Linked DNA regions of Homo sapiens: region 1 is reported to be linked to region 2. The links are microRNA targets in miRTarBase. Many come from high-throughput screens and were not tested one by one. Region 2 holds a microRNA gene; the other region holds the end of a gene's coding sequence.
What was found. The annotated mature microRNA hsa-miR-3925-3p reads ACUCCAGUUUUAGUUCUCUUG and lies in region 2 at 2,020-2,040, shown strand. An mRNA with a match to its seed (bases 2 to 7 or 8) in the 3' UTR can be bound and repressed. Matches are read on the target gene's strand: a 7mer-m8 pairs with bases 2 to 8, a 7mer-A1 pairs with bases 2 to 7 and ends in A, and an 8mer does both.

Region 1 (4,000 bases), not on the chromosome of region 2:
AAGCATTTATTCAAATTCAACAATTAGTCATAAATAACTCTTAGCATATGTAAAAGAAGGCAGCTTCCTTAATCTCATTGTTTGTCTAAAATGAAATTATAATAAACTACATAAGGAATACAGGATCACTGAAACCTGTTCCCTGGAATCAGAACCAGACACACCGTGTTCAGGAGGTGTGATGGGGACAATAAAAGAAGAAAATAAAGAAAAATAAAGGTGTAAGAACCAACATTTAAGCAATATAGGTGTTATTATATGTGGCTGACACTAACTACATAAGTATGTAAGTACGTTAAGTATTTAAGTACATAAGTACATAACTACATGTACATAAGTACATGAAAAACCCACCACAATCCAAAAATGATGCCTATGAATATGTGAATTAAACCAGGTAACAAGATACAAAATCAATATATAAAATCAATTAGATTCTTATTTACCAGCAAGAAAGAAATGTGAAATAAAATTACGGTACAATGACCAGACTAAGAAACAACTATCTGCACTAGAAATGACCCCATAAAGGATTAATTTATAGAATACCTTTTTAAATTCTTCAAATCAACATAAGAACACAAATGACCCAACAGAAAAGCCAGCACTGAAAATGAAGACAAAGACGCAAAGGCCAATAAATATTCACAAAACGTCGCTTCACTAACTTATTTCCAGTTCCAGATGACAGGAGGCCCTCAAGGACCCAGAAGGCAGGACCACAGGGAGGTGACAGCGCCAGCAGCAGCAGGGCAGGCCTCTGCCTTGGCCACAGCTCCTGGCGGGCTGCAGGGGCCGGGAAGCCCGAGCAGCCTGGCGCTCCTGGCCCCTGCACACACTTCCCTCCCTCCACCCCGTTCCTCTCTCTCTCTGTGCCTTGGGCCCCCTGGGATGCGCTCACATCCAGACTCACCAGGCCGGAGACGTTGGCAGAATGGAGAAGTGCTGGCTACAGGTGGATGATGCCCACCTGGCTGCCAATGACTTCTGCACCAAGCGAGGCTGGGTCTCTGGAGCTGCACCAGGGGCTGGACAAGCTGACCCTGGCCGGAGCCAACCTGGAGATGCAGCCTGAGAACCTCAAGGAGGACCTGGTCTACCTGAAGAAGATTCAACAATGACTATCTTTCTTCAGCCCCATCTAATTACGGCCCCTGGCACATACTAAACAGTCACTAAGTAATTCTTAAATAACTTTTATTTCAACATTCAGTTAAAAACATTCCATACTGTAACAAAAATTTCAATCTTTCAAAAGTCCAATACCCTTAGTTTGATTCAAGCTCCATCAAAGATGAATTGGTTAGTTTTTAATCTGGAGTTTACAAGTCATAGTTAATATTTCAAAAAGCCTAACATAGACGATATGTTTGCCCACAAAAGGAATAAAAAGACTAATGAAAATGGTAAATTATTTGCTTTGGGCTGGAATTTTAGTACCTAGGTCTGCCTACATGGTGCCAGTCAGAAGCATGATTTGTGTTGTACATGCCTTTATGTAGCAAAATATAATTCTTTAATAAATGCAGTTTGGTAAACATAATCTTTTAAGACACAGGACATAGGGGAGTAAAAAGAAGGCCTTGGTGATTAAAAAGTTGGAAACCACTGAATTAAATTACCTTCAAATCCCTGTAAGTATCCTGTTTATCCTTATAAACATTAGCTCTCACTGTACAGCATTGTAAAGACAAGCAGAAGAGTTAGACTTTTTTTTTTTTTTGAGATGGAGTTTCGCACTTGTTGCCCAGGCTGGAGTGCAGTGGCATGATCTTGGCTCACCGCAACCTCCACCTCCCAGGTTCAAGTGATTCTCCTGCCCTAGCCTCGCAAGTACCTGGGACTACAGGCGTGCCCCACCATGCCTGGCTAATTTTTGTTATTTTTAGTAGAGACGGGGTTTTAGTATGTTGGCTGGGCATAGTAACTCCTCATGATCAACTCGTGACCTCGTGATCTGCCCACCTTGGCTTCCCAAAGTGCTGGATTACAGGTACGAGCCACCGCACCTGGCCTACACTCATTACTTTCACAGGGTTTTTTCCCACATTTAAACTTGTCACTCGACTAGGAAGTCAAGATTGAAATGGCTCTTTCCATGAATAATTTAGTTTTGGGGTTGTTGCCAAAGTGATTTATAATGATTTTAATAATGATAGACATCCCTTAAAACATTCTCAAGTAATTAGACCCCTGGGGCTGGTGCAGTGGCTCATGCCGGTAATCCCAACCCTTTGGGAGGCTGAGGAGGGAGGAGTGCTTGAGCCCAAGAGTTCAAGTCCAGCCTGGGCAACATAGTGAGACCTCATCTCTTTGTATGTTAAAAAATAAATAATTTAAAAAATTGTATCGTTGGGACCATATTCTAGTGTCAGTTCTGAGACAGAAAAAAAAAAGGTGATTATGTCCAAGAGCTTTTGGCTTTTCCACTTGATTATACTTACGTTTGAAAAATCCAGTAGGTATTTTCTCTGCTTTCCCACCTTCCCATGGTTTTTTTCTAATAAAACTCATTTGTAGTGCAATAAGATGTGGTCTCCATCAGACTTTTCCTAGTTTTACTGCATTCATTAGGTTTCTGCTACCTATTAGAATAGGTCCTGTTTGTAGACTCTTACAGTCTTCAAATTCCTTTCCAATGTGAAGTTTCTGGTGCTTAAGAAAAGCTGTCCACCCACTGAAGGCCTTACCACAGTTGCTACATTCAAAGGGTTTCTCTCTGGTATGAATTCTTTGATGACTGACAAGGTGTGAGTTCTGACTGAAGGCCTTCCAACATTCAGGGCATTCATAGGGTTTCTCTCCAGTATGAACACGATGGTGTCTAATAAGATCTGAGCTGCCCCTAAAAGATTTCCCACATTTGTTGCATACATAAGGTTTTTCTCCACTGTGAATTCTATGATGTCTCAGAAGGTCTGAGCTCTGATTGAAAGTTTTCCCACATTCTTTACATTCATATGGTTTCTCTCCTGTATGAGTTACCTGATGTCCGATGAGGTCTGAGCTGCCCTGGAAAGCCCTACCACACTGATTACACCAATAAGCTTTCTCTTCTTGGTGAATTTTCTGCTCTCCCCTAAGCTCCTCATCCTTGCTGAAGGTTTTCTCACGTTCTTCAAGTTTCTCTCCAGCATGCAGTCTCTGATGTTTGAGGAAAGCTGTGTGCCACATGAAGAGTTTCCCACATTCCTTACATTCATAGGGTTTCTCACCACTATGAATTCTCCGACGTTGAATAAGGAGTGAACGCCGCCTGAAGGCTTTTTCACATTCAGTGCACTGATAGGGCTTCTCTCCAGTGTGGATTTTCTGGTGTGTGACAAGGTGGGACCTCTGGCTAAAGACTTTCCCACATTCACTACATTCATGAGGTTTCTCTCCAGTATGAACACGATGGTGTTTAATAAGATCTGAGCTGCTCCTAAAAGATTCCCCACATTTATTGCATACGTAAGGTTTTTCTCCACTGTGAATTCTATGATGTCTCAGAAGGTCTGAGCTCTGATTGAGTTTTCCCACATTCTTTACATTCATATGGTTTCTCTCTTGTATGAGTTACCTGATGTCTGATGAGATCTGAGCTGCCCTGGAAGGTCCTACTACACTGATTACACCAATAAACTTTCTTTTCCTGGTGAGTTCTCTGCTCTTTTCTAAGCTCCTCATCCTTGCTGAAGGTTTTCTCACATTCTTCAAGTTTCTCTCCAGCATGCAGTCTCTGATGTTTGAGGAAAGCCGTGTGCCACATGAAGAGTTTCCCACATTCCTTACATTCATAGGGTTTCTCACCACTATGAAGTCTCCGATGTTGAATAAGGAGGGAACGCCGCCTGAAGGCATTCCCACATTCACTGCACTGATAGGGTTTCTCTCCAGTATGGATTTTCTGGTGTGTAGCAAGGTGTGACCTCTGGCTGAAGGCTTTCCCACATTCACTACATTCATAGGGTTTCTCTCCAGTATGAATACGATGGTGTTTAATAAGATCTGAGCTACC
Region 2 (4,477 bases):
ATCCTCACACACTGCCGGGAAGGTAAGCTTGGTTACTTCTGCCATTTTACAGGTGGGGAAACTGAGGCTAAGAGAGGTTAACTTCTGCCGGCAACACTTGGAAATGGTTGGTATGGTTGGAAGCCGGCACCGCTGGGCCCAGGGTCTGGGGCTAAGTGGAATTCAGTGTGGGTCTTTCCTTTCCCATTAGAACCCCTCAAGTGTCAGACCCTCTGCCCCTCCTCGCAGTACTTCCGCCTTGCCTCATGCCTCCCAGGCACTATCTCTGTGAACTTTGAGCTCTGCCCCTATTGCCCAAGAAAGGCTCGCTGATGAGGAGGAAATTGCCCAGGTTTATAGTTTCCTCCCAGCCTCTCTGGCGACACCTGAGCCTGCTGCTTCTCCCCTTCCGCCTCCCGCCACAGTCATACACACAGCCACTCATGCATACTCACATCACACCACACTCCAACCAGCACTCCCCACGCTGCCAGTCACACATAGTTACACACATACAATCACATATATGTTCCCATATAGACACATTCACACTCATACTTTCACACATGCACACGCATGTGCACACACAGTCACTCATTTCTGTGTTGGAGATTGGGTGAGGACATTCAATGGGTGAGGACCAACAGGTGTGAAGATTGCTTTCTAGAAAATGACGCCTGTCTCTCTTTGCCATTCTTCCCAATCCAATGGAGCTACTAGGCTTTTCCCTCATTTCATGTTTAATAAACAAGCCGCTCTTGCGGAACGATGGTTGGATCCCTCATCAACCACCACACACTCCCGACCCCACCCTCCTTCCTGCCCCTGCCAGCAAACCTGACAGGTCCAAGGCCTGGAATTGAGAACCTGTTTTCTTCCCCATCCTGCCCCCTTGTGACGGGAGCCTAGAACTGCTGGCTCTGCGCCCAGAGGTTAACCACATTTCTCAGGAAGGTTCCAGTAGCCAGGCGGGTTGTTAGGAGAGGTCTGTATCCAACTCCCCTCCTCCTGCAGAGGGGCAAACTAACTAAATGAAGATCCACTCTTCCTTCACCCCGATCCTCAGGGCCACCAGAAGAGCTGACTGCTGTTTCACAGGCACACTCCACTGGCACAGGAGATGGGTGGGTGTGCCAACTGGACCAGCATATGGCAGGACCCTTATGATGATCAAGCCTACAGTCATCATACAATCACAGGATTGTTGCCCTATATCCATATTTTCTTGACACCCTAATAGTGCATTTGGCTAAACCTTGGTGAAATAGGCATGACAGCATGTGACTGTGCCGCCTCTGACACTGACCACCCAGGCCTTTCTCTTCACTCCTTCCCTGAGGCCTTGGAGGGTCTGCCTGTGGCCTTTAGTCTGGTGTTTGAGCTCACAGAACTGGGTGTGGTTGACCCTCCCTTTGTCCTCACCCCCTCCACACACACACAGGGATGCTCTTGCAGGCTCCTGGTTTGATGAGGCAGCCCAGGATGTGTCCCCACCTTTCCTCTTTGAGCCCAGGGCCAGTGTATTTCAGGCCGAGTGATTTCACCCAGGGTCTTGTTTCCATTCCATTTTATTTTTAGTCCTCAGGTGCAGTGGGATGAGTCCCTCCTATTCCCCAGGTGATGGCTGGCTGTCATCATTGGTCCTGACTAGTCACCTCTTGCTTCATGTATTCCCCCCTCACTCCATTGTCATTTCCATGCCCCCACCCCACAGGCAGCCATTCTACTATATCCTTTATTTGTATGTGTTCTTGTGCAGTGCTTTGTAGGCATGGATTTTGGTACTGCAAAGTGCTGCATTGTACACATAGTATTGCATAGTGTTGCCTTATTACCATTTCTGTAACAAACTGAATGTGTTACTTTATGTTGGAGCGTGGTGGAGCCTTAAGAATTTATTGAGAATCTCTGCATTAATGATTATGAAAGTGACTGCAAGTTTTCGCTGAGTCTTATTTCCTGAACATAAACTCAGGATCCTGGACCATGGTCATGTGGGAATAGCAAGAGAACTGAAAGTGGAGCCTGTCACATCTCCAGACTCCAGTTTTAGTTCTCTTGCTATTTCCACCACATCTTTCATCACTTCCTCCACTAAAGTCTTGAACTCCTCAAAGCCATCCACGTGGGCTGGAATCAACTTCTTGATGATGGATGAAGCCACTTCCTTGTGGCTGGAACCAACTTCTGTGTTTCCTAAAATGGGGACAGCAATAGTACCTACTCTCTAAAATTTGTTGTGGGCTAGGTGCGGTGGCTCACGCCTGTAATCCCAGCACTTTGGGAGGCCGAGGCAGGCAGATCATGAAATCAGGAGATCGAGACCATCCTAGCTAACATGGTGAGACCCTGTCTCTACTAAAAATACAAAAAATTAGCCGGGTGTGGTGGCGGGCGCCTGTAATCCCAGCTACTCGGGAGGCGGAGGCAGGAGAATCACTTGAACCTGGGAGGTGGAGGCTGCAGTGAGCCAAAATCACGCCACTGCACTCCAGCCTGGGCGACAGAGGGAGACTCCGTCTCAAACAAAAAAGAAAATATTTTTTGTGAAGATCAAATGGGTTAATACAAGTGAAGAGTGCCTGGCACTACTAGTGCTCAGTAAACATTGTTTATGGATGCTTTCTTTTTTTTTTTTATTAGGCCTTATAATAGCCCTATGAGGTAATATAATTAGTTCCATTTCACTGATGAAGAGACCAAGGTCCAGGGAACAAAACAACTTGCCCAGGTTTGCATCATGATACTGCCAGAAGCTAAATCTAGATCTTCAGACCCCAAGACGGCCACAGGACCTCGATCCCCATGTGTTCCCTAGAGGTGTTGTGCAGAACCTTCCTGATGCTGATCTGGATGACGAGCGGTCACCCACAGGCTGCTGGAGATGATTCCTGGTCGGGTGGCCCTCAGTCCTCCTTGATCTTTCTCCCACACTGTGATCTTCACACCCACTGGCCATTCCTGAGAAAGAACCTGCCTTCTCCAGGGCTTTTGTGGGTGCCCATGTTCACCAAGCAGCCTCTAAAGTGATGTGAATCCTAGCGCCAGGCCTGGTAGTAGCACATATGCATGGTAGATGCGTGCTGGAAAAGCAGGAGCCCTAGGAGCCTGCCTTGGGTTCTAGTCCTAGCCATCCATTGCCTCACCCTAGGGTCTAACTTTCTATCTCTAACCTTCAGTTTCCACATCTGCACAATGGGGATAGGAACTTTTCTGTGAGGATCAAGTAGGTTTTAGGAGACTATTCCAATCTTGATCAAATACTAACAGTCGCCTGAACCCTGCAGAACAATCCCTGCTTGTTGTACAGTCTGATGCCACCTCAGATGAACCATTACCCACTGTATGCACTGAACATTTTCCCCTCCCCTCCAGGAAGATCATCCTCTGGATCTGCCCTCCTCACAACGGCCTTATTGCTTTTCTGGAGTCACCGAATCTTAGAATATCGGTGCTGGAAAAGAACTTGAGGACCATCAGTCCCAGTGTGGCAAACTTATCTCCTTATCAAGGACCCCCGCTGCCTAAAGCAGTGGTTGACTCAGTCATTGCTCCCCTCACTGCAGGGTGCAGTGTGAAGAGGGGACAGATCATCCTGTGAGTTACAGGCCACCTTCAGCCCAAATACCCCCTTTCTACAGATAGGCAAACTGAGTAAATGATGATCCCAACTTCCTTCACCTGACCCTCGCCTCAGGGCTACCAGGAGATAGGGACGCCATGTTGGCACAGGAGATGGGTGGGTATGCCACCTTCCCCATGGGCAGGCCCCTATTGCGGTCACATCTCAAGTGACTACTTACAACCATCAAACAATTAGGGTTTACTGGTGGATGTCTTTATCTTTTTGACATTCTGTAGAATTATGCTAACAGATTTTGGAAAACAATTTGCCCAAAATCTACGTGACTTCATCCTTTGATTTTTGTTTGTTTGTTTGAGACAGGGTCTTGCCCTTCACTCAGGCTGGAGTGCAGTGGCGCCATCACAGCTCACTGCAGCCTTGACCTTCCAGGCTCAAGTGATTCTTGTGCCTCAGCCTTCCAAGCGGCTGGGATTACAAGCGTGCACCACCACGCAGCTTTTTTGTTTTTTTGGTTTTTTTTTTGAGATGGAGTCTTGCTCTGTCACCCAGGCTGGAGCGCATTGGCGTGATCTCGGCTCACTGCAACCTCTGCCTCCCGGGTTCAAGCGATTCTCCTGCCTCAGCCTCCCAAGTAGCTGGGACGACAGGTGCGTGCCACCACACCCAGCTAATTTTTGTATTTTTAGTAGAGACGGGGTTTCACCATATTGGTCAGGCTGGTCTTGAACTCCTGACCTCATGATCTGTCCTCCTCAGCCTCCCAAAGTGCTGGGATTACAGGCATGAGCCACCGCACCCAGCCATGCCTGGCTAATTTTTGTATTTTTAGCAGAGACAGGGTTTCGCCATGTTGGCCAGGCTGGTCTCGAATGTCTGGCCTCAAGTGATCTGCCTGCCTCGGCCTCCCAAAGT

Region 1: miRTarBase lists ZNF594 as a target of hsa-miR-3925-3p. Seed matches in the 3' UTR shown: 8mer at 3,380-3,387, 8mer at 3,296-3,303, 7mer-A1 at 3,128-3,134 and 8mer at 2,801-2,808.

What each region holds. Positions count from the first base shown.
Region 1 is chr17:5,178,355-5,182,354 of GRCh38, forward strand. ZNF594 (zinc finger protein 594) reads right to left here. Exons shown (of 2, transcript NM_032530.2): 2 at 1,181-4,000. The coding sequence ends at 3,479. Among named protein-coding and RNA genes, the nearest start is that of ZNF594, 12 kb to the right of the region's middle.
Region 2 is chr6:36,620,009-36,624,485 of GRCh38, reverse strand. It overlaps MIR3925 (microRNA 3925), which reads left to right and starts at 1,974; the gene lies at 1,974-2,050.